Linked DNA regions of Homo sapiens: all the other regions are linked to region 3. Evidence: fine-mapped expression QTL. A gene starts in region 3. Each other region holds a variant in brackets. All regions are shown on one strand. Distances are from middle to middle.

Region 1 (5,595 bases), 190 kb after region 3:
CATGACTATTTCTGTTATAAGGTCATATTCAGATCGAATTGTCAATTATAAATTATAAATACATTATAAATGTCTTCATAGCCAAAGAAAACCCAGGATTGTGTGGTGTACTCAGTTGCCATGACTCCTTAGTATCCTTTAAACTGGAATAGACCCTAAGACTTGCTTTGTATTTCATGTGTTTACATTTGAAGAGTATAGAGCAGTTCATTTTTCAGAATGACCCTCCTTTGGGTGTGTCTGATGTTTCCTCATTGTCAGTTTCAGGTTATGCCCTTTTGGCAGGAGTACATTATAAGTGATGTTGTATTCTTCTCAGTACATTGTATCAGGAGGCACAGGATCTTAATTTGACTCATAACTGATGATGTTAACATCGATCACTTAAGGTGGTGTCTGCTAAGTTTCTCTACTGTCAAGTTACTAGTTTGCTATTTATCGTTAATAAATATCGTATGGAGAGGTAATTTGTGACTATGTACATATTCATGTGTAAAAATAAAAATTTCACCCACTAGTTTAAGGATCCATATGTTATTCTGACTTTAATCAATTGTTATCATGATGGTGATTTTCTAATTTTATTGTTTCTTCTATTAATACAATATTTTTTGTTTCTCCTTTGTAAGGAAGAACTTTCCTTCTTTTTCTTTCTTTCTTTATTTTTTTAGACGGGTCTTGTGCCAATGTTTTAGTGCTAGGGGTTTATTACTAGGTGGATGTCATTGCTTCTAGGCCCTCACAGTGGGCAGAGCTTAGAAATAAATGAATGCACACACACATGCATCTATCTTTATTTTTGTATTGAGCAATGTGTATATTTTAAAACTCATTAATTCCCACTGATACCCCAAATTTCAGTCATGTCCTACAGAGCATATTCTCGCCTTCCTTCTCGTGTATTTGTAACTCCTTTCTCTACCAGTGGGGAAACTGGCTCCCATGTTCCTCGGTATATTATTTATTTATTCAGTCCTAGTTTCAGAATTGCTAACCCATGGCTTTGTGGGGGAAAAAATACCTTATTAACTAGAGTTCAGTATTTGTTCAGTATTTTGTTTTTTTTTAAGTTTTAGTGTGAGGACATGTTGTCTAAATACTGTCATCAAAAGTTACTTGGATCACACTATTTTTATTCTATAAGAGGGAACCCAGGTCAGAGAGGAAAGGTGACTTAGAACAAGTCGTGAATTCTCTTCCAGTGTCAAATTCTCTAATTGGAGTTTGCATCCCCAGTGAAGCTCTCAACATCTCATCATGGAGCTATGCATCACTGTTGGCAGCATTCTTGGGACACTTTGCCACTTTGCTTCTCACTTTGTGCATTTTGTGCCAGGCTTGGTGTGAGAGGAAATGATTTAATAACTTAAATTATTTTAATCCTAACCTAGGATCAAGAAAATGAAGAAAGAAATCTGATTACAAATAAAATAAAATTGCAGTTAGAGAGCCATTTCGTTCTCACTGTGGTCAGGTTGTCTTGGGAACTTATCTGGTGGAGGCCAAGGGGGTGATAGTGGCCATTGGGATCCTACTCCTGGCTTTAGTGGGTGTCCCTTTATTGTCTCAGAGGAGTGATGTTAGTTATTAGTTCGGGATAGACAATTTTCATGGTGTTGAACTATTCCTGGTTTACCAAGAGTTTCTAACAGAGAAGGATGGTAAAGTTTATCATTGGCATTTATAGAGATGATGATTTAGGTTTTATTATATCTAGCAAGTATTAGTTTTATGGATTTACTATACACCAGGCATTGATGTAAACATCTTTTACATGTGTTAGTTTATTTAATTCTCACAATAACCCCACAAAGTATGTAATGTTAGTATTCTCATATTTTGTAGTATTATTTTATGTGGGTGTCACATGTGGCCACAAAAGGAGACAGAGGAAAGGCTCTGGAAAAAAAATGAAGTTTATTATACTCATGGTCCCAGAGACAGGAAGTACAGGGCACACCATGCGGGACCACATGGGAACGACACCAGATGGTCAGGAGAGAGAAGACAGGGGTGGGGGAAGGCTTAAGTCACTGCCTTTTCTTGGGGTTTCCAAGGGAAAGGCAAGGCAAGGCAGGGCAATGTGAACAGTTTAGGATTGGCCAGTCTGGATAATTTCAGTGAGCTTTGGGCTAAAGGGGTGGTGGTCCCTAGTTGCCTGGTATCTGGCCCTGGGATGACTAAGGCAGAGGAATACTGTCTCCCGGAATGTAGGGCCAGAGAGAGGAGGTGTGGCTCTGGACTGGTGAGTTTGCATGTCAAAGGCACGCTGCAGTCTGGACCCTTATAACCTCCAAGAATTCACTAGCTCTAGGAAGAACAGTCTCTCCCCAGCCAGAAAAGTTTATTTAAAGGCACCAAAACATTATAATATATAGAAAATTAAGAAAAAAACATTTACAATATGTCCCATGTTATAGCAAGAGAATTGGGCACAGACCTTAGATTGCTTGATAAAAGTCACAGTGGAAGTGGAAAAGCCAGGTTTCTAACCCAGGGGCCCTGGCTTTTAAATCTGACTGTTAGCCTCTAACTATTCTCTTCTTATTGTAATGCCTTCTTTGATCTACTGATGTGATAAATCACATTAATAGCTTTCCTGGTATTGAACCATGCTTGCATTCCAAATCATGGTTGGTTATGGTGTTATTATTATTTCAAAACACTACTTGACTTGATTTGTAACTTTACTTTGTATTTATATTCATGCAAATTTTTTATTTTCTTGGCACTGTATCAAGAGTGTTCTAGGCTTAATGAATTGAATTGGGAAACTTACTATTTTTTACAGACTTATTGAACTATATAAAATAGAAGTGATAGTTTCTTAAAAATTCAAAGAAAAGATAGAGCCTGTAAAACCAAGTAGGCCCAGGATCTTTCTAAATTATGTTTTCAATTATTAGCCTACTTTTTGAATTTCTTGCAGGGCTAGTAGTCTGCTCAGATTTACCATTTATTTTTTGATAATTTTGAAAATTTATGTTTTCTTAGAAAACCATCTATTTTATCAAA[C/A]TTTTCAAATTTATTAATACAGAATTATACATGTTATTTTCCCATGACTTAAAATGTCTTCCATATCTTTGTTTATATCTCTTTACTTATTTCTAATTCTCAATATCTGTTTTCCTTTTTTAAAAAACAATACTTTCTGGAAATTTGTTTATTTTACTGTGTTCTTTCTTGTCTTCCGATTAATTAACATCTCTTTGTAATATTTACTCTCTTGCTTTTCTTAAATTTGTTGTGTTGCAAGGAACATTTTTCCCTTTTGTTGAAATCAGAAAACTCATCTTTTTTTCCTAGAAAAATTTCATGATGTTTTATTAACAAGACTATCATCACACAATGGCAAAGCCTTTCATGATTGTCTTTCAATTAATCCATTTACACAGTCAGTAAAGGAAATTTATTTTTCAAAAAGAGCCTGCTATGAATGGTTACATTAAATGTATTTAGAGATATTTAGGCTATTGTAGAAGATCAGTTTACAATTCATATCAAGCATTATAGGTAACAGCTTCAATTTTATATCACTATCTGAACTGTCAATTTTCATGTGCGTGCAAATATGGGAGCCCATCTTCATTTATCCTCCATTTGCAATTAAAAGCTCTGTTTAGCCTAATTCTTCTCTATATGATCTTGTGTCCCACTGTGCTATTTCAGAATAATAATAGCTCAGGATTTAGGGCTATGGAGGCCTAGTTTTACATGAAAATCTTTTTAATGGAGAAAAGGCAAGTAAAACAACAAGTATTTATTCAGCAACCAAGTGTTCAATGCTGGGATGGTAGGTAAGTGTGTTAAAAAAATGGAGAAAACATGCTTGCCTTTGAGAAGCACATAATTCTGTCCATTATATACTTAGGAATGTGCAAGCTGCTTTTCATGTACTTTGTGATAATTCTTATAATAACTTCTCACAAAAAAGCAAGGTAGGCATGACTGTCTCCATTTTGCAGATGAGGAGCCTAGCTTGCGAGAAGTTAAATCGTTGACCCATGGACACATAGCTAGTAAGCAGTAGGTTTGGTATTCATACTGAGGTCTCTTTGAATCTAAAACCCACACTTCTTCCTGTTCTTGGTGATTTTCAAACTTTGGGAGTCTCAAAGAATATAACCAGCCCTATATCCCATCTTCTGGGTGATAACCTGGACACTTTCTACTGAACTGATCAACACTAGACTAGATTTTTCTTTCACCTGTATTATATATTAGGCTTTACGTAAGAATTCATTTGAAGACAGTCTTGTGGATCTGTTTCCTTTCACAATAAAAAATTGTTCTAACTAGTGTCCCAGTTCCCGTCAAAATAGCATGTATTGAGTTAGCTCTTCCCCTGACAGTAATGATAAAAGCTGGAGGAAAAATTATCCACATTATGGATATAGATATATGTACAGTTATAGCTCAGGGAGTTGGTTTCAGGACCTTCTCCTGGATACCAAAATCTGTAGATGCTTAAGTCCCTGATAGAAAGTGGTGTAGTTTTTGCATATAACCTACGCACATCCTCCCGTATACTTTAAATCATCTCAGATTACTTATAATACATAATACAATGCAAATCTATGTAGATAGTTATCCTGTGTTTTAAATTTATATTGTTTTTAATGTTGTATTGTTATTTTTTATTTTTCTGAATATTTTCAATTTGTGCTTGGTTGAATCTGTGAATGTAAAACTCATGGATGTGGAGGCTGAGATACAGATGTGAAGGCCCTGGAGGGCAGCCAAAACAGGCAGGAACTGAAGGAAGCACAATCCCTGAATGAAAGGAAATACTTGGAATGAGTTCCATGCTTAGATACTCACCTCAGCTTTCCCCCTAAGGGCGGGCACATTGCAGTTCAATAAGCACTAGGCCTTCGCCAAGCAGAAAGCTGTAATCTGACTGGGCCAAGGAGACAATGGATGAAGTCTGAGTCTGCCAGAGCAGGAAAGGATTGAGGAACAAAATTCTGGAAAAGACTTAGCTGCAATGAGAGAAGCTCTAAAATGCCTCTTAGGTCATTGGCTGTCTCCTGAGATTTCCGCGTACAGAGTGATTCCAAAGAGCCAAGCAGAAAGCAGCAGTTGGGAGGCTGAACTTCTGAGTAGAGATCCCAAAGCTTACCATTGCTGAGGAGCTAGAAATTGGAATTTAAGTTCTTTCAAATTGGGAGAGGTTTGGTTAATGCCTCAGATTCTCTGTTAAGATCTCAGAGGGACCATGCTCTGTAAGAGAGGGAAAAACTGAAAGAGATGAACTCTAAGAAAGTCTTAAAATTAACTTTCAATAGAATAAAGTGATCTGTTAACTTACCAAAAAGAAAAAGAAGAAAAATCTTAACCATTTGGGAGAGAGATAACATCATCCAGAGCTCCACATTTTTTTGATTCACAATGTCTATTACTCAATAAAAAATTATAAGAAATGATTTTAAAATGTTATTATTATTATTTTTGAGACAGAGTCTCTCTCTTTTGCTGAGGCTGGAGTGCAGTGGCACTAGCTCAGATCACTGCAACCTCTGCTTCCTGGGTTTAAACAATTCTCATGCCTCAGCCAACTGAGTAGCTTGGACTACAGGTGCACGCCACCACGCC
Region 2 (5,595 bases), 24 kb after region 3:
GTGCTCCCAGCTGGAGCCATAGCATGTGGTTTATTGAACTAAGCATTTTAGGAGCCCAGAAGATAGGTATGTTAATTACTGGTGTTACTACTTGCAGTTTTCTTTTTGAGCGTGTTATCTAACCTTCAACTCTCAACTTTCGGTGTAGAGAGGTATTTCATGTGGTTTAGGTGGTACACTGATAAGGGATTCTGTAACTCAGAATCACACAGTGAGAATGTAATTTCTTTTTCAGTTTTCTTTGAATCCTAAGGATTACATAAATACAAAGGTCATATTCTAGAGCCTAGTGTGTAACACTTTTCAGTATCAAGAGCAAGACGGTGACCCTGGGAAGCAGCTCTAGGGGGATTGGGGAAGTGAGGCAGGGAAGGTAAGGAAGCCAGTAAGGTAAAGTCACCACTGTAGGCAGCTGGAGCTTAGTACCAGTGGGGAGCTCTGGGAGTCAGTATAGCACAGGGGCCTTAGAGTCGCCTCACCCAAAAGGAGAGGGAGCTACTGGTGGTAATGACACTGAATCCTCAGTAGTCATTGGTTGAAGGCTGCTTTGGGGTTAATTCTCCCACAATTTCTTACCTGCTCCTCCCGCAAGCAGAGCAAGCTCTGGCAGCTGGACAGAACATTGAGAGAAGTAGTCGTAGGGTGTGGATGGGGTAAATGGGTGGGGCACCAACAGTATCTGCTATGCCCGCTGGACAGCTAAGCTTTTCGTGCAGTCTTCCTCATTTTAGTAAACGACAACCCCATCCTTCGGTGCTGAAGCCAAAAACTTTGGAGCCACTCGACCTTTCTTTCACATCTCACATCTAATCTATCAGCAAATCTTGTTGACTCTGTTTTTAAAATATCTTCAAAATCTGATCTCTCCTTATTGTCCTCAGTGCCACCATCTGGCCCAACCCCATATCAGCTCACAGCCTCCAAACTTAGTTTACCCTCAGCACAGCTGCTGGAATGATCCATATAAAACCTAAGCCAGATCATGTCACTCCTCTGCTCAAAACCCTCCAGAGAGGCTTCCACCTTAGAGTAAAAGTCAAAGTCTTTACAATGGCCCATAAGGACCTACATGTCTGGCCTCTTCCTACTGTTATGTTTGCGCACGTGCATGTACGGTTCTTTTTGTCTTTAGCTTTACATTAGTCAAAACACTCCTTTATTCCCCATTCCATTCAGTGTGGGTTATGTGATTCATTTGTAATTCGGTTCATTTTTTGTGTTTTGCATTTCATCTTTACCACTACAGCCTTGTTGATTTTTTAAATTTACATAGTAATTTGATGTACAGTTCTTTTGGTCTTGACAAATGCGTGAAGTGGTGTATCCCCCACCATAGTTTCATGCAAAACAGTTAATTGCCATAAAAATTCCTCCATGCTACTGCTTTATAGATAATCCTTCTCCCCACCTTCCAGCCCCTGTCGACCACTGATCTGTTTTCCTCCCTATAGTTTTGCCTTTATTAGTATCATGTAAATGGGACTCTTAGAATATGTAGCCCTTTGGGTCTGGCTTCTTTCACTTAGCAAAATGGATTTAAGATTATGCCATGTTGTTTTGTGAACATTCCTCAGTAGTTCATTCCTCAGATGTCCTGTAAAATAAAATTAAATAACAGAAGTGGATTGATTTAAAGAAAGTATTGAACAAAAATGATATAGATGGTACATAGAAAAAAATCTTGAACCTGGATGACTAAGGTGTGGAAATCGATAATGTGATAAAAAGATACTGGGAAGGCTTTGCTTTACCTGGTATCTCTGACAGTAATGAGCCTTGAGTTCTTGAGGAAGTCACTTAACCACTCTGCTTCCTAGTCTGGTAAAATAAACAGTGAAATACCTGGTCTCGTTGTTGTTACTCCTGAGGTAACTGTGATTCATGACACAGAATATAGGCAGGTTCTTCTGGTAGCTCTTTTTTTAATATTAACATTTCAGTGCCGTGAAGCAACTGTTACCTGGATTTCAAAGCTGTTAGGATCCACTGTACAAATGCTTTGTGGAAACCTGTAGTGTGGGAGTAAGAGCCTGTCTGTAGGAATGAAGTAAGCCTCAGCGCAGGGTCCCAGTTCACTGACTTCTTTTCTGTTGGGCTTATCCAGTTTAAGATAGTAGCAGCCTGAGTTGGAGCTGTAGTAATGATGAAGAGGTGCTGGTGTTGTTGTAAATCTCGGCAAGTTTTACAGCAACCTCTTTGTGATTGCAGCATTTGGACCTTAATCCTCATAGTCCTGTCCTTAGGCACATTTCCTCGAGGATGTCTACAAAGATTGATTGTTGGTGTTCACGATTTCTCCAAATTTTCCTGTGGTTCATTGATAGGCCATTTTGTCACATAATTGGCAGTGTGTATTTGAGGGTCAGAGCATGTTTGAGACTGCTCCACTAATGACAGAAGCTTACAGGAAACCCAGAAGGAAGCCAGTGA[T/C]GATTGCTTGTTTGGTTGTTATTTTTAAAGATGGACAGGTTCATACTAACTTCTCTTAAATCCATGATTAATGGCTGCTTAACATCCTTGACCAGGTTGCCTTTTTTGTTTTTAATTGAAATAGGATAGTTAGGTGATAGAGTGTCAGTGTAAAATCAGAAGAGTAAGTGAGAGGAATTTGAGAGTGCAAAATGGCTGTGATTTGTGTTTGCTCCACATGTGGCACGTAGTAATATTTATTTTACTTTTTACTTTTAGTAATGAATGTTATAACTATTGAAGATTATAAGAGCACATACTGGCCAAAATTGGATGGTGCCATAGATCAACTTTTAACTCAGAGTCCTGGTGACTATATCCCCATATCCTATGAACAGATATACAGGTAAGTTAAGATTTAATTTGCTTGGGTTTGAAAGGGTATACTAAGGTTCAAGGCACTTGAATTATGCCTCACACAAACATGTAATGTAGAATGCATAAGATGAGGCTCTGTAAGTGTTTTATGTATTCCACACTTACGGATTGGAGGGTTTGGTTTATACTTTTTGATTCAAAAGTGGTTTTCAGATCATGACAGAGGAAGCCTGCCACCTCCACCATACATAATGCAGACACTGTGGAAGTCAGCAATAAAAGCAAGAATGACTGAAGTATCTGGTGTAAAAATCATATTTTTAGTCTCAGAGGGAGACCTTAATCTGTTGGTGTTTATTGACACACAATTCTAACTCTCTTTGGTTATTTTGTTTCTCAGCTCCTGTTAATGGAAGCAGCAAATTAGGAAGTGGGGTGGGATATGAGATCAGCACAGTGAAAGGAGGAAGTGACAAGTATGTTGTTCCACACAGCTGATGTACAAAGAGGTTGTATTGCAAACACTTCCGTGAGTTAGAAACCTCTCTCTACTGATTATCAACCACTCTCTCTTCCTTATTTTGACATTCATTTAAAAAGAGAGAGAGAACCTGGTTTATAAATAGTTATCATATTCAGACCTTAGATTCTCACCTACTATTAGATTCTCTAGTACTGATTAAATGTGTAATACACTACTTAGAAGGGCATATTTATAGCAGATGGTACTATCTTTTCCATCCGAACACCGATGGGGGAGGATAAAGTTTTTATTTAAAAGTTGTGATTGGTTACTTTTTGAAGGTATGAATTATTGGATCAGTGGTTATATATCAAAAGTGTGCTTTAACCTTGGACTGAGTTAAGTGCTTTATGATTAACTTGGTTTGTGGGGGTTTTTGTTTGTTTTACAGTTGTGTGTATAAATGTGTATGCCAGCAGCACTCGGAACAGATGTATAGTGATCTGATTAAAAAGATAACTAATCACTTAGAGAGAGTCTCAAAGGAGCTGCAGGTAAAGAACTGATTGTATTGATTTTTGCTTCCTTGGGTTTTCCTGACTGGTTGCAGTTAGCTTTTCTAATACACATTTGGAAGCTTGTTAATTTGATTATGATATAAATTTATAAATGTTTTCTAGGTGAATGTTGATCAAATCATGTAATTTTTGGAATAGATTGTTAATTTGAAAATTTGGTATAAATTGTGGAAATTTTTGGATTAAATATATTTCAGACCTTAACTGATTCTATTGATTATCATGTCAACATTTCTTTTATTTAAAACTTTATTTTTTTCTGTCAATGTCAATATTTGGTGACTTTTATGATACAAAAATATGTGCATATTTTAACTTGTTTTGGAACTCGTATTATCATCTTTGAAGAGTGGTTTGCCTACTGATTTATAATACCTTTCAATATAAACAACTGAAGTAAACACTTTATTGATAAACCTCCTGTAAATAGGCATCATCTCAGCTCTAAAATCTGGGGCAGGTTGCAGAAAAACTCCTGTTTAAGGGAGCACTTAGCTTGATCCTCCCCCTGCCCACTTCAGTAAACCTTCAGTGCTTGAAGATCAGGTATTATTAAGTTGGTGCAAAAGGAATTGTGGTTTTTGCCTTTGAAAATAATGACAGAAACCTCTGTTACTTTTGCACCAACCAAATAATCTTTATACCAGGGCTTGATCCCACTTTGCTTTTGGTATAGAAGTAGAAGAATGTCTAGAAAAATCACTCAGCAATCCCAGCACTTTGAGAGGCCGAGACAGGTAGATCACGAAGTCAGGAGATCGAGACCATCCTGGCCAACATGGTGAAACCCCGTCTCTACTAAAATTGCACACTCCTGTAGTCCCAGCTACTCAGGAGACTGAGGCAGGGAAATCGCTTGAACCCGGGAGGCGGAGGTTGCAGTTGGCCGAGATTGCGTCGCTGCACTCCAGCCTGGCGACAGAGCAAGACTCCGTCTCAAAAAAAAAAAAAAAGAAAAGTCACTCAGCAATAGATTACCAGGGTCTATACCACAATTAGGAAGCACCCCAGCAGTTTTGAAATAACCACAGTTTATAGCACATGCTGGGGTGTGCTTTGGGCTTGGATATTGTTCTTCACAACTTGTGGTCTGAGATAGCTTAGTTTTTTTGTGTTTTTTTTCCCCAAACAGTTGTTGCACTAAGTAGCATTTTGTTTTCTGTTTCAAATGATAGAGCTGTGTTTTGTCATAGTCAGATATATACTTTTCTTGTTGTTAGTATAAATTTCTTTCTTCATCTTTTTGCCGCTAACTATAAAATCTTTATTCATTTAACACATATGTTTAGTGCTTAGGCATTGTGTATAAATTGTTGATGAAACCCTAGATCTATGCTTTATAGCTTTTGAGTGATTTGCTTTCTAATTCTTCACTCCACCATCTACCTGAATTTCTACCTGAATCCAGTTTATGGACTTCGGGTCTCGCTGTGGACTCTGTCACACACTTCTGTTCATTTGCCAGTACCCTAGTCAGGTTCATCATCATTTCTCGACTGTTTTACTGAAATGCTTATCTCAACTGCCTTACTTCATTGATACACCTTAATTTAACCAGTTTTTGATTGATGAATATTTAGGTTACTTCCAGTCTTTGGCCATTACTAACAGTGCTGAAGTGAATAGTCAGTCTTGTAAGTAATGTCGTTTACTAAGTCTAAATTGTGGTTCACAGAAGTTGTATCAAGTTGCATTCCCATCAGTTCTGTATATATCACAGTGTCTGTTTTCCCTCACCCTACTAATACAGCCTATTATGAAACCAAA
Region 3 (5,595 bases):
CAGTATGTTCAATTTTTGTAAATGTTTAGCATATTCTTGATAGGAGTGTGTATTCTATGGTCATTAAGGCAATATTCTACACATATATATTAGATTAAGCTTGGTAATTGTGTTACTCAACTCTTCCAGTACCTTAAAGATTTTTTTGGTCCCCTCGGTCTATGTATTAGTTTCCTGTAATCAGTTGCTTAACAAATTATCACAATAGGTGGCTTAAAAAAACCGACATGAATTCTCAGTTCTGGCATCTAGAAGTCTGAAATCTACATGTTGGCAGGGTCACAATCCCTCCAGAGGCTCAAGAGGAAAATTTGTCTCTTCCAGCTTTGGGTGCTGTCAGCATTCCTTGACTTGGGAATGCCATCACTCCAATCTCTGCTTCTGTGGTTACATTACCTTCTCTTCTCTTCTACCTCTCTTTTATAAAGACACCTATCATTGGATTGATGGCCCACCTGGATAATCCAGGATGATCTTCTCATCTCAAGAACTTTAATTACATCTGCAAACGCCGTTTTTCCAAATAAGGTCATACTCGCAAGTTCTAGGAATTAGGATATGGACATATCTTGTGGGAGGCTGTATTCAACTCACTGCAATTAGAGAGGGAGTGAAAAATCACCTACTCTGATGGTAGATTTCTTTGTCTTCTTATACTTCTGTTCATTTTCGCTTCATATATTTTGTGGCCATATAGTCGCTATGATATAAATCCTTAGATATGTAAAGACTTGCTTTATGACACAGTATGTTAGAGACACTTTTTTGACTCTATCTTCCCTGTATATTGGACTTTTTTTTTAAATGTAAAGACCCTTCTTTATCCCATCGCACTCACCCAGCCATCTACCTAGAGTCTGTTGATGATAAACCATTAGTTGTTTGAAACAGAATTTGCCTTCCTTCTGCCTCTCTTTTTGCCACACATGTAATTCTAAGGTTTTATGTTTTCCCCTTCAGCATACCACTTAATTCTCTTTTTTTTTTTGGAGACAGTCTCACTCTGTCACCCAGGCTGGAGTGCAGTTGCGCGATCTCGGCTCACTGCAGCCTTGACCTCCAGGGCTCAAGTGATCCACCTAAGCCTCCAGAGTAGCTGGGACCACAGGCACACGCCACCATGCCAGGCTAATTTTGTTTTTAGAGGCGTGGTCTTGTTATGCTGGTCTGGCTGGTCTCGAATTCCTGGGCACAAGCGGGCCTCCCATCTCTGTCTCCTCAAGTGGTTGAATTACAGGCGTGAGCCACTGCGCCCAGCTCGCATTTTTTTTTTTTTTTTGAGATGGAGTCTCGCTCTGTTGCCCAGGCTGGAGTGCAGTGGCGCGATTTCGGCTCACTGCAACCTCTGCCTCCCGGGTTCAAGCAATTCTGCCTCAGCCTCCCGAGCAGCTAGCTGGGACAACAGGCACGTGCCACCACGCCCGGCTAACTTTTTTGTATTTTTAGTAGAAACGGGGTTTCCCGTGTTAGCCAGAATAGTGTCGATTTCCTGACCTCGTGATCCGCCCGCCTCAGCCTCCCAAAGTGCTGGGATTACAGGAGTAAGCCACCGCGCCCGGCCTGAGCCGGCATTTTTAAAAGTTGGGTTGCTGGCCTTAGTGCATACAAACGTAAAGGAATTTTAAAAACACATGAGTAACTCAAACGCATTTCTTTTTTGCGCCATCCTGCTATGTGTGATTCGGTTTTTATTCTCGATTTTGTGCGTGTGTGTCGCGACGGCTGGGGACCGACCCAAGAGCAGTCGGACCACGGGCCGCCCAGGGCGGTCTCATCCGTTTATAACCTGCGACCCCGGGGCCTCTTGTGGTCCCGTACCTCCGTCCCAAGCAAAAGCCGGGGCTCTCAGGCACTCAGAGGTGCGAAGGCCCCGTAGACTTGGAGGACGCGAGGAAAACACCTCCAATCACTCTGGCCAGTCCACAGCTACTGCCAAGACTGCTCCGCGCGCGTCCTCAGGAACCGGCGAGGGCCTCGTCGTCATGGTAACCAGATTGCGAACGCGCGTGCGCAAGACACACCTTTGTCACGTGAGGCCGGGCAGGGGGCGGGGCCGGCGAATGCCCGTCCCGACCCGTCGCGCCTCCCCTGTTAGCTCCCTGCCAGCCGAGGCGGGGCGAACCTCTGCCCTGTTGCGTGGGAGTGACTCACAGCTCCCGCCCCTTTTGGCTCCGCTTTCTCGCGGCCAGTCCCTCGCACCACGTGCCCTCCTGGCCGCGCCCCCAGCTGCCCTTTCCAACTGCCTGTTGGAAGCCGCTGTAAAACGTCGTGAGGAGCGCCGCTGCTTTACGGCTGCCTCTCCCAGACTAGAGCCCCGGAGCGCCCACCGCCGTCAGCCGCGTCTTCAAGCTAGTCGGCCCCGCGGAGAGCGAGAGACCCTGCGCACCGCAGCCCTCTCCGCTGCGCCCATTCCTGCCGCCGGCGATGTAACTCGGGGAGGCAGCGGTGCCCGCTGGCCCGGGGTTGAGACAGGCGGCAGGTGCCTGTGAGGCGGGCGGGTGCCGGGGGCCAGCAGGATGGAGGAAAGCATGGAAGAGGAGGAGGGGGGCAGCTACGAGGCGATGATGGACGACCAGAACCACAACAACTGGGAGGCTGCGGTGGACGGCTTCCGGCAGCCCCTGCCACCTCCGCCGCCCCCCTCGTCGATCCCGGCCCCTGCCCGAGAGCCTCCGGGGGGGCAGCTGCTGGCGGTGCCCGCGGTCTCCGTGGACAGGAAAGGCCCCAAGGAGGGGCTCCCGATGGGGCCGCAGCCACCGCCGGAGGCTAATGGGGTGATCATGATGTTGAAGAGCTGCGACGCGGCCGCCGCCGTGGCCAAGGCGGCCCCCGCCCCCACCGCCAGCTCCACCATCAACATCAACACCTCCACCTCCAAGTTCTGTGAGTCCAGCCTTTCCCTGCAGCCTTGGCTTTTCTCCACCTCACTCGGACGCCGAATCCACCCCCTCTTGGAGAAAGCTCCGCTTCCTTTGTTTCAGGCCTCGGTCTTTCCTCTTCTCCCCGTCCGCCTTCGCCTCCCTGCCTCCTTCCCCCTCACCGTCCCCTCCCCCTCATTTGGTGTCTGCGGCCAGCGCCTGAGCGGCCCTGGCTTCTTGTATTACCTGGCCTAGAGAGGCAGCCTGGTACACACGGAGCCCCAAGTTCGGTCAGTGCGATCCCTATCACAACTGGCAGTCTCTCAACATTGGGAAGCTCTTTTCGCACCCGTCTTCTCTTGAAGTTTCACCCTCAAAGTGAGGGGAAAATAAGGCTGCCTGAGTCTCGTTAGGGAAAGGCCTTCAGTCTTCTGCAGCCAGAGAGAGAAAAGAAATCTGGCAACTTGTGTTCTTGTGTTTTTGGCCAGGCTGTGTTAAACAAGTAAGGAATTTGAAAGTTGACCTATATCTACACCTTGTTCCTTCTCTACTGTGTTACACTTTTGCATCCTGCTAGGGAAATAATGAGTTGCTTTCCGATGCAGTGGCAGCTCCGACATCGTCTTGAAGCTAATAATGCATAAAATCACTTTTCAGAGCTTACACTCATAAGAATAAGCCTTTCAGGATGGGTTATGTCTTGTGTCCAAACCCAAGATTGGGTTGCATGTTGAACTTTATGTTAGTAGTCTGTCTTAACGCTCAATTGCACGCATTAAGATTTAAGACCAAAATCTGTTTTGTAATCCGAAACTGCCTCTGACCAGGATATATGTATGCTTCCATAGCTAGGAAAAGAATGTGCTTTTACTTTGGTTTGTGTGTATGTGTGCGTGGCGGTGGTGGTGGTGATAGGATGTTGAAAATGATTGTGACCATCACAGCCAGGTTTTTCTCTCCTATTATTAACTGCAAGTTTTGAGTGGCATCTGGTAAAGCAACTGGAGAGTTCATTTCTAGCTACTAATTTTATGAAGCTGTACTTGTCCAGTTAGCTGTGCAGAGAAAATATTTGCCTTGATGCAGATAGTCGGAATCTTACACACTGTGTGTGGGAACAGCGCGTAATTTTATTTGCCCCAAGATACTGCCTTAGTCAAAGACATTGATATGTACGTTTGGTAAGATTATATACGCTTTTTCTCCTTATTCATGATAATCATGTTTATATTGTATAGTTTGTGTGTTGAAGGCTGTGTTGTGGAACCAGACCTCCTGTAGAGTGGCAGAATGACTTCACCTGAGTCACGAAGGAAGATTGCCTTAGTAAAGTTCCTTTGAAGAGTTCAAAAAAGAGCATAAAGTTAGGAACAGAAATCAGTAAAATTGAGAACAAAAGGATTTGTCACACCAAAAGATTATTTTTGTGAAAAGATGAGTAAGCTAGGCAGACAGACCTCTGATAAAAACGACAAGAAAAAAAGATGCAAATAAATGAAAAATGGAAAATAACTACAAATATCAGATTAAAAAAAGAACGTTATGAACTTAGGCTGATGAATTTGAAAGCCTAAATGAAAAATATAGTTCTTAGAAAACTAGTAAATGTGAAAATTGGTATCAGAAGAAATATCTTGAACTAATAAACTGAAATGGTAAAGATCTCCCTTTTTAGAAGCTCTGCATCCAGATACGCTGATGAGTTCCACCATACTTTAACACTTAATTCTTTTTGCAAGTTGCACTGGAAAATAGAAAAAATACCAAGTTCATTTTATGAGGCTTGTGAAATCTTGATTCTAAAACAGATAAGGACATGTAAGAAGAGAAAATTATAGGTCTGTTTTACTTAGCATAGAAATGAAAATACTGCAGAATAAATACTCGCTCATCAAATCCAACAGTGTGTTACAGAGTCCTGATCCATAGAGTTAGTCCTAGAGATGAAAGCATGGTTTAACATCTACTTATCTAATTTAGCTCTTTAATAGACTAAAGGAAAAAAATTACGATTATCTCAATTGGTGCCCTGAAATCATTCAACTAGATCCAGCAGCTATTTATGATAAAAACTCTTGGTAACCTAGGAGTACAAGATAACTAGATAAAGGTCATTACCAAAAACCTTCAGTAAATAATAATACTTAATGGAGAAATTTTAGATACATATACTTTAAGATCCGTAACAAGATAAGGATGCTCCTGTCATTACTACTGTTTAGCATTGTAGGAAGGTCCTGGCTAACATTATAAGGAGCAAAAAAATAAGGTATAAAGATTGTAAGGGAAGCAATAAAAGTTATTATTTGCAGATAATATGATCACCTACCTAGATGAACCATTAAAATCCAGAGAAAACTTAGAACTAGTAAGAGTTTAGCAGGATTGCTGGATTTAAGATAAACTTACAAAAATTTGATAGCATTTACTAAACTAGTGATAACTAGTAAAGATAATCAAAAGTAAATACTATATGTAATAATAGCAACAAAACTCTAAAGTCTCTAGGAATCAACCCGTGAATACGCAAGACCTTTAAAAAGGAAACTTTAAAACTTGAAAAAGAAACTAGAGGATAATCTAAATAAATGGTACAATTTTCCTTGCTCTTGGATCAAATTACTTACAAGAATACTAATTTTCTCCAATTTATAAATTCAGTTTAAATGACGTCAAAATTACATTTGGTTTGACAAACTCAATAGCCTAAGTCTAAAATTTATATGGTGTGTGGGAT
Region 4 (5,595 bases), 39 kb after region 3:
AGAAAGTCGTGAACCCGGGAGGTGGAGCTTGCAGTGAGCCGAGATTGCGCCACTGCACTCCAGCCTGGGCAACAGAGCGAGACTCCCTCTCAAAGAAATAAGAATAATAAATAAAATAAAAGTAAATATCTTCACGGGCCGTGAGGTGTTTGTCTAGCTCCTGTGCTTAACTCTGCTGGTGCAGGTGAAAGCAGCCACACAGATTACATAAACAATGGGCATTGCTGTGTTTCAAAACAACTGTACTTAATCAAAACAGGGTGTAGACAAGATTTGGCCCACAGCCTCTAGTTTGTTGATCTCTGGTTTGGTGTGCAGGTGAGTTCCCTCCCCGACTCTCCCCTTCCCTGTCCTGCCCCCCACACACCCTGTGGCAACCAAATTTTACCTTGTATCTTTGGGGAACCTTGGGAGTAAGCAAGTTTCCTGTGCTTCCATCAGCAGCAGTATATTTTTGCTTCATAACAGTGTGGAAACCTGGGCATGAGTGGATTTTCTACCATCCTGAAAATGGTTGCTGACCTTTGCTTGTCAGGAGGGCTGGAGGATCACCTGCCTGTCTTCCAGTGGTAGACAGTTTTTGCCTAAGGTCAAAGAAGGGTCACCAGGTTGCAGGGTTTCTTACCCCTTCCTTTCAGCAAATGGCTTTTGCTTTGAATCTGGGTAGGTTCTAGGGCACAGGCAGTTTTTGTTCATGTCTTCCATTGGCAGTTAATCACCACCTTTTTTTGTCATGGAGGACCCCATGATGTGTTCATCGGCTTCTTTAGGTATTCCTGCTTCATCCTCAGGTCTTACTAAGCCCGGCACATCTTGCTATGGAGGATGGCCTCTCAGATTTCTTTCACTGCCCCCAGTCCTTCTCTTGATGACCCAGTGGAAACCCATGGAAAAGAGTTGGAGAGGAGGTGCTGGTGCTGACTGCCCTTGTGTTGAAGCCTCCCAGGGATTCTACACTGTTAGTTCACACTTGGCCTTTAATGATTCATTACAATTTCTGTTGTTTGCTTATCTGCTTTTATGACTACCATCACCAACAGAGAAATAGTCCATGTGTCCTTTATTTTTTTTTAGAGGAGCTTGTCACTCTGAAATTCTTCTCACCTAGTTGAACATTGCAGATGTAAGTTAAAGAAACCTTAGGTGTCTGATGAGCTCGAAAAATTATGATTATTTTGGTTAACCAGCTTTTTCTTACCATAAGAGTGGGAGTGATGTTCTTTCACAGCTTTCTGCATTCTAAGCTGAGGGGGAACTTGAGTTATATTTTGATAACTTTATACTCCCTGAATTTGATACTAGTCAAGAAGCCATTAACTTTTAAGAGGAAAAATTCACCTATGTTAATGTTAAAATGTTAGTGCATCATATTTTTACTGATTTCAGTGCAGTTTGCAGCTAAATTGTCCTGCAGTAAATGCCTGTGTTACATGGGTGATTACTGCTCAGTTTTCTCTTGAATCCTGCAGACTTCCTTCCTGTAGAGCTCCTCTCATTTCTTGGAAGAGGCTTAAGGTGTAGGGTTCCTAAATGCTTAACAGGTGGGCCAGCTGTTTACAGACTTCCCTGAAGTTCTCACTAAAAATACACACCTCTGGAAAGTTTCTGAATCAAGACTTTGGAGTGTGGCAAAGGAATCTGCGTCATTACCAGTCCCTTCAGGTGATTCGGAGAGAAGCATTCTTTGAGGTCCACTGGCGTATGGAAATGTACCATTGTTCCTGAACCTAGTCTCTCTTAAGCAGGGAGTGCAGTGTAGCTTATGTTTAAGAATAAGATAGTGCGCTGGGCTCGTTGGCTCACGTCTGTAATCCCAGCACTTTGGGAGGCCGAGGCGGGTGGATCATGAAGTCAGGAGATCGAGACCACCCTGGCTAACACGGTGAAACCGTGTCTCTAGTAAAAATACAAAAAATTAGGCAGGCGTGGTGGCGGGTGCCTGTAGTCCCAGTTACTCAGGAGGCTGAGGCAGGAGAATGGCGTGAACCTGGGAAGTGGAGCTTGCAGTGAGCCGAGATCGCGCCACTGCACTCCAGCCTGGGTGACAGAGTGAGACTCTGTCTCAAAAAAAAAAAAAAAGAGGTTGTGTTGTTGCTGATGCCACTCAACACATTTGCACAGCTGGAATGCTAGTCTGAATTAGAAGTATCCGTGCAGACCTGGATAACATAAACAGCAAAGCATAGCCTAAGTATCCAGTGACAAGGGACTGATGAAATAGGCAATGATGTGTCCAAACAGTTGTTAAAATTAGGTTATAGAAAGAAATTTGACCTGGGAGAGATGGTGACGATCTATAGTTGGGCGATAAAATCAGGTTACAAAATAAGCCATATTTGTTTAGAAACAGACACATGCACACAGGAAAAAAAAAAAAAATACCAAAATGGTAATAATTTTCTACGAATGTTGGTAGTGGTTATTTTTTTCTTTTTCTTTTTCTTTTTTTTTTTGAGACGGAGTCTTGCTCTGTCGCCCAGGCTGGAGTGCAGTGGCGCAATCTTGGCTTACTGCAAGCTCCACCTCCCAGGTTCATGCCATTCTCCTGCCTCAGCCTCCGGAGTAGCTGGGACTACAGGCGC[G/C]TGCCACCACGCCCGGCTAATTTTTAGTATTTTTAGTAGAGACGGGGTTTCACCGTGTTAGGATGGTCTCGACCTCCTGACCTCGTGATCCGCCTGCCTTGGCCTCCCAAAGTGCTGGGATTACAGGTGTGAGCCACCGCGCCCAGCCGGTAGTGGTTATTTTTCCATAGTTGCATTTTAAATTTTTAAAAATTTCAATGAACGTACATTACTTTTACAAAGATACATGTTTTGTCATGTTTAGTAGGTCCTTCTCTTCCATCCCTTCTTGTCTACTTCATTCTAGCATGCAAAAGTCACTTACTTATTTGAAGACAACCAGAATGCTTTTGTGAAGATAAAAGCACATATTCTTAATTTTTTTCATGTTTCATTTCGGTTGGCTGGGGACGAGGATGGGGGTAGGTAGAGGAGGAGGGATATAAATATGAAATTGTAGAACTCGTTTGTATTTTACATCTGCATTGTCCAGTTAGTTATGTGTAACTATTACAATTAAAATGAAGTAAATATTTGGTTCCTTAGTTTAATTAATCATATTCCAAGGCTCAATAGCCAAACGTGGCCAGTGGTTACCATAGTGGACAGTGCAGATTTAGAACATTCCCATCACCACAGAAAGTTCCTTTGGGCAGTACTGACCCACATGATAGTATATTTAAGTCTCTTGACTAGTAAAATTATTTAAACAAATAATCCTCTTCTAAAATTATTAATATACATCAAATTCGGGTGACTGACCAATCAACCTTCCTTGTTTAGCTTTGAAAGTTAAAGATGACAAGCTTTCTTTCCCCTTCCCTTCTGTGAAGGTGTGGTATGTATATCAAATCTGTCTTTTCCTTTCTTGCTGTAAGGCATTTCTCACACTAGGACCATGTATGTGTATATATATATTTTTAGTGGTATTTCGCAGATTTCACTATTTAAACTGGACAACTGAAATTATTTTTAATATAATTATGCATAAGACTATTATCTAGTTCTACCTTTTTTAATTTAAAGGTTGTTTTGAAATTATTGTCTATAACATCTATATGAAGTTACTCAGTGCAACAATCTGGTAACAAAGGATTAGCACGAAGCTATCAATATGACCTCTGATTAAATAAATAGTACATTCAAGCATCTTACAGAAATAGATATTCCTAAAGTGTGTGTGTTTTGAGGACTTCGGAGGGTCCCCAAAAGCCTTTCAGGGGGGTCTGTAAGTAATGATGGATAGACGCTGGTGCCTTAGCATGAATTTTCATTTCCACATGCTTGCGGGGTGAGGAAGCCATTTTCATTAAGAATGTCCCAGATGAAACAGAGAAAATTATTAATTTTATTAAATTGTGACTTTATACTTTAAAAAATATTTTATGTAAAGAAATGGGACACCGCATACCAGAGTACAGTGGTGGTTTTGAGAAAAGGTGCTTATGTGATTGTATGAATTTTGAACTAACCCTGCTTTTCTGCATAGAACGGTATTTTCACTTGAAAAAAAGACTGACAAACTACGGTTAGACTTTGGTATTTGACAGACATTTTCTCAGAAATTAGTGAACTAAGATTGTCACTTCCAGGAAAATGACTGACAGTATTTGTTGCCAATAATGAAACTTGTGCTTTGAAGTGAAAATTAAAATTTTGGAAAATTTATATCTACCACTGTGACCTTGATAGCTTCCCAATACTTAAAAAGATTTCTGATGAGATAGGTGTTAATACTGTCTCATCAGAGATGTATTTTTTTGATACCGTCTAATGAAATCAACATTGGGAAGATCTACATAACTCAGAGAATCAGTATTTTCCAAATGACCAATGTGTGATGTAATAAAATGTATACAGAAAAGATCCATTTAAAGTAGAAGATAGACCCGTGGTTTTTAATGGAATAGAGTACAAAACATTCATTGATCGTTTCAGAAAATAACACATCACAACTGATTTCATTGCAGAAGCAGATATGAGAATCCAGCTGTCTTCTATTAAGCTAGGCTCTAAAGAGACTTGCAAAAATGTAAAAACAGTGACACTCCTCTTACTAAATTTTGTTTTGGTAAATAGTTATTTTTTATAAAAATAAGATGGTGATGAGTTTGTTATTGTCATTTTAGAATGAATTAATAAGTATTTTTAGAACTTAGTTTTAATTTTTATTATGGTAAATACTTACAGATACAACCTGCATATAAACAAAAAGCTTTTTGGAATCTTGAGTTGTTGTTAGAAATGTAAAGGTTTCCAGAGACCAAAAGTTAGCGAGAACCACTGGAATAAAACTGACTACAAGATATACATTGTTAGGGAAAGTTGCAGGTATGTGTGATTATACCTTAGCATTTGTGTATAAAGAACTATAAATGGGACATTTATTTTCTAGTATAGGCATAAAGTTCTTCTGGAAGGATATAAAAAGTATTGGTTGGTTCAGGGAGGAAGGAATGAAAGGAAAACTTACTCTAAACCCATTTGAACTCATTTGAATTTTAAACCAGATGAATACATTACTCATTATTTAAAAAATATTCTCACACAGTTATATTACAAAATTCAGGGAATCCAGATCTGTTAAGAAAAATTGGAGCAAGTTTGGAGTAATGGTGATGGCAGTGGCGGCCCATCTGGAGTGGCCACTGCCATCACGCTGCTGTAGCAGGGAGGCGTCAACAGGTGGGGCTGCATGCTCCATGGAGCCGGCAAGAGCCTCTTCTGAGTTGGGGTGGGAGCACACTGGGTGCTGCTGCAGCCACCCAATCCACAGCTGTGGACTCAGGCATCCCTGCATTCTTGGGGGCCCAGGAAGGACCCCCTGCCCTCGAAGGCTCAGAAGTGTCTGTTACTACTGCCTGGCTTCTCCAAGTTGTCGGCACTGACTCTGATCTTGGAGCAAAGTTGGGGGCGAGCCCAGGTGCTGTCGCAGCCTGGCCAGCTGTGCACACGCTGAGGGCAGTGCTAACACACTAGCCCTCTGCTGCCTCGGCCCCCTCCGGACTTTGGGCACTGACAAGCACAGAAAGGA

Which allele goes with the higher level. Positions count from the first base shown, and alleles are read on the strand shown. Sizes are in standard deviations (SD) of each study's normalised expression. Not every link is listed here.
As copies of C replace G in region 4, the expression in gastroesophageal junction of the gene that starts at base 2,309 in region 3 goes down (small effect, 0.25 SD a copy in GTEx).

What was found. PIP is the estimated chance that this variant, and not a neighbour inherited with it, causes the effect. A credible set is the group of variants that fine-mapping cannot tell apart.
Region 1: its variant is the best candidate, but not a certain one, in a credible set for the expression of CACUL1 in whole blood (INTERVAL, PIP 0.50).
Region 2: its variant is the best candidate, but not a certain one, in a credible set for the expression of CACUL1 in whole blood (TOPMed, PIP 0.67).
Region 4: its variant is the best candidate, but not a certain one, in a credible set for the expression of CACUL1 in gastroesophageal junction (GTEx, PIP 0.70).

Annotation. Positions count from the first base shown.
Region 1 is chr10:118,557,397-118,562,991 of GRCh38, reverse strand. No RefSeq gene overlaps it. Among named protein-coding and RNA genes, the nearest start is that of PRLHR, 35 kb to the left of the region's middle. The variant C/A (reference allele first, on the strand shown) is at 3,016.
Region 2 is chr10:118,727,504-118,733,098 of GRCh38, reverse strand. It overlaps CACUL1 (CDK2 associated cullin domain 1), which reads left to right. Exons shown (of 9, transcript NM_153810.5): 2 at 2,689-2,815; 3 at 3,702-3,804. Among named protein-coding and RNA genes, the nearest start is that of CACUL1, 25 kb to the left of the region's middle. The variant T/C (reference allele first, on the strand shown) is at 2,431.
Region 3 is chr10:118,751,684-118,757,278 of GRCh38, reverse strand. CACUL1 (CDK2 associated cullin domain 1) reads left to right here and starts at 2,309. Exons shown (of 9, transcript NM_153810.5): 1 at 2,309-2,883. The coding sequence starts at 2,517. RefSeq lists enhancers at 1,948-2,242, 2,241-2,380.
Region 4 is chr10:118,713,090-118,718,684 of GRCh38, reverse strand. All of the region lies in intron 3 of CACUL1 (CDK2 associated cullin domain 1), which reads left to right. Among named protein-coding and RNA genes, the nearest start is that of CACUL1, 39 kb to the left of the region's middle. The variant G/C (reference allele first, on the strand shown) is at 2,583.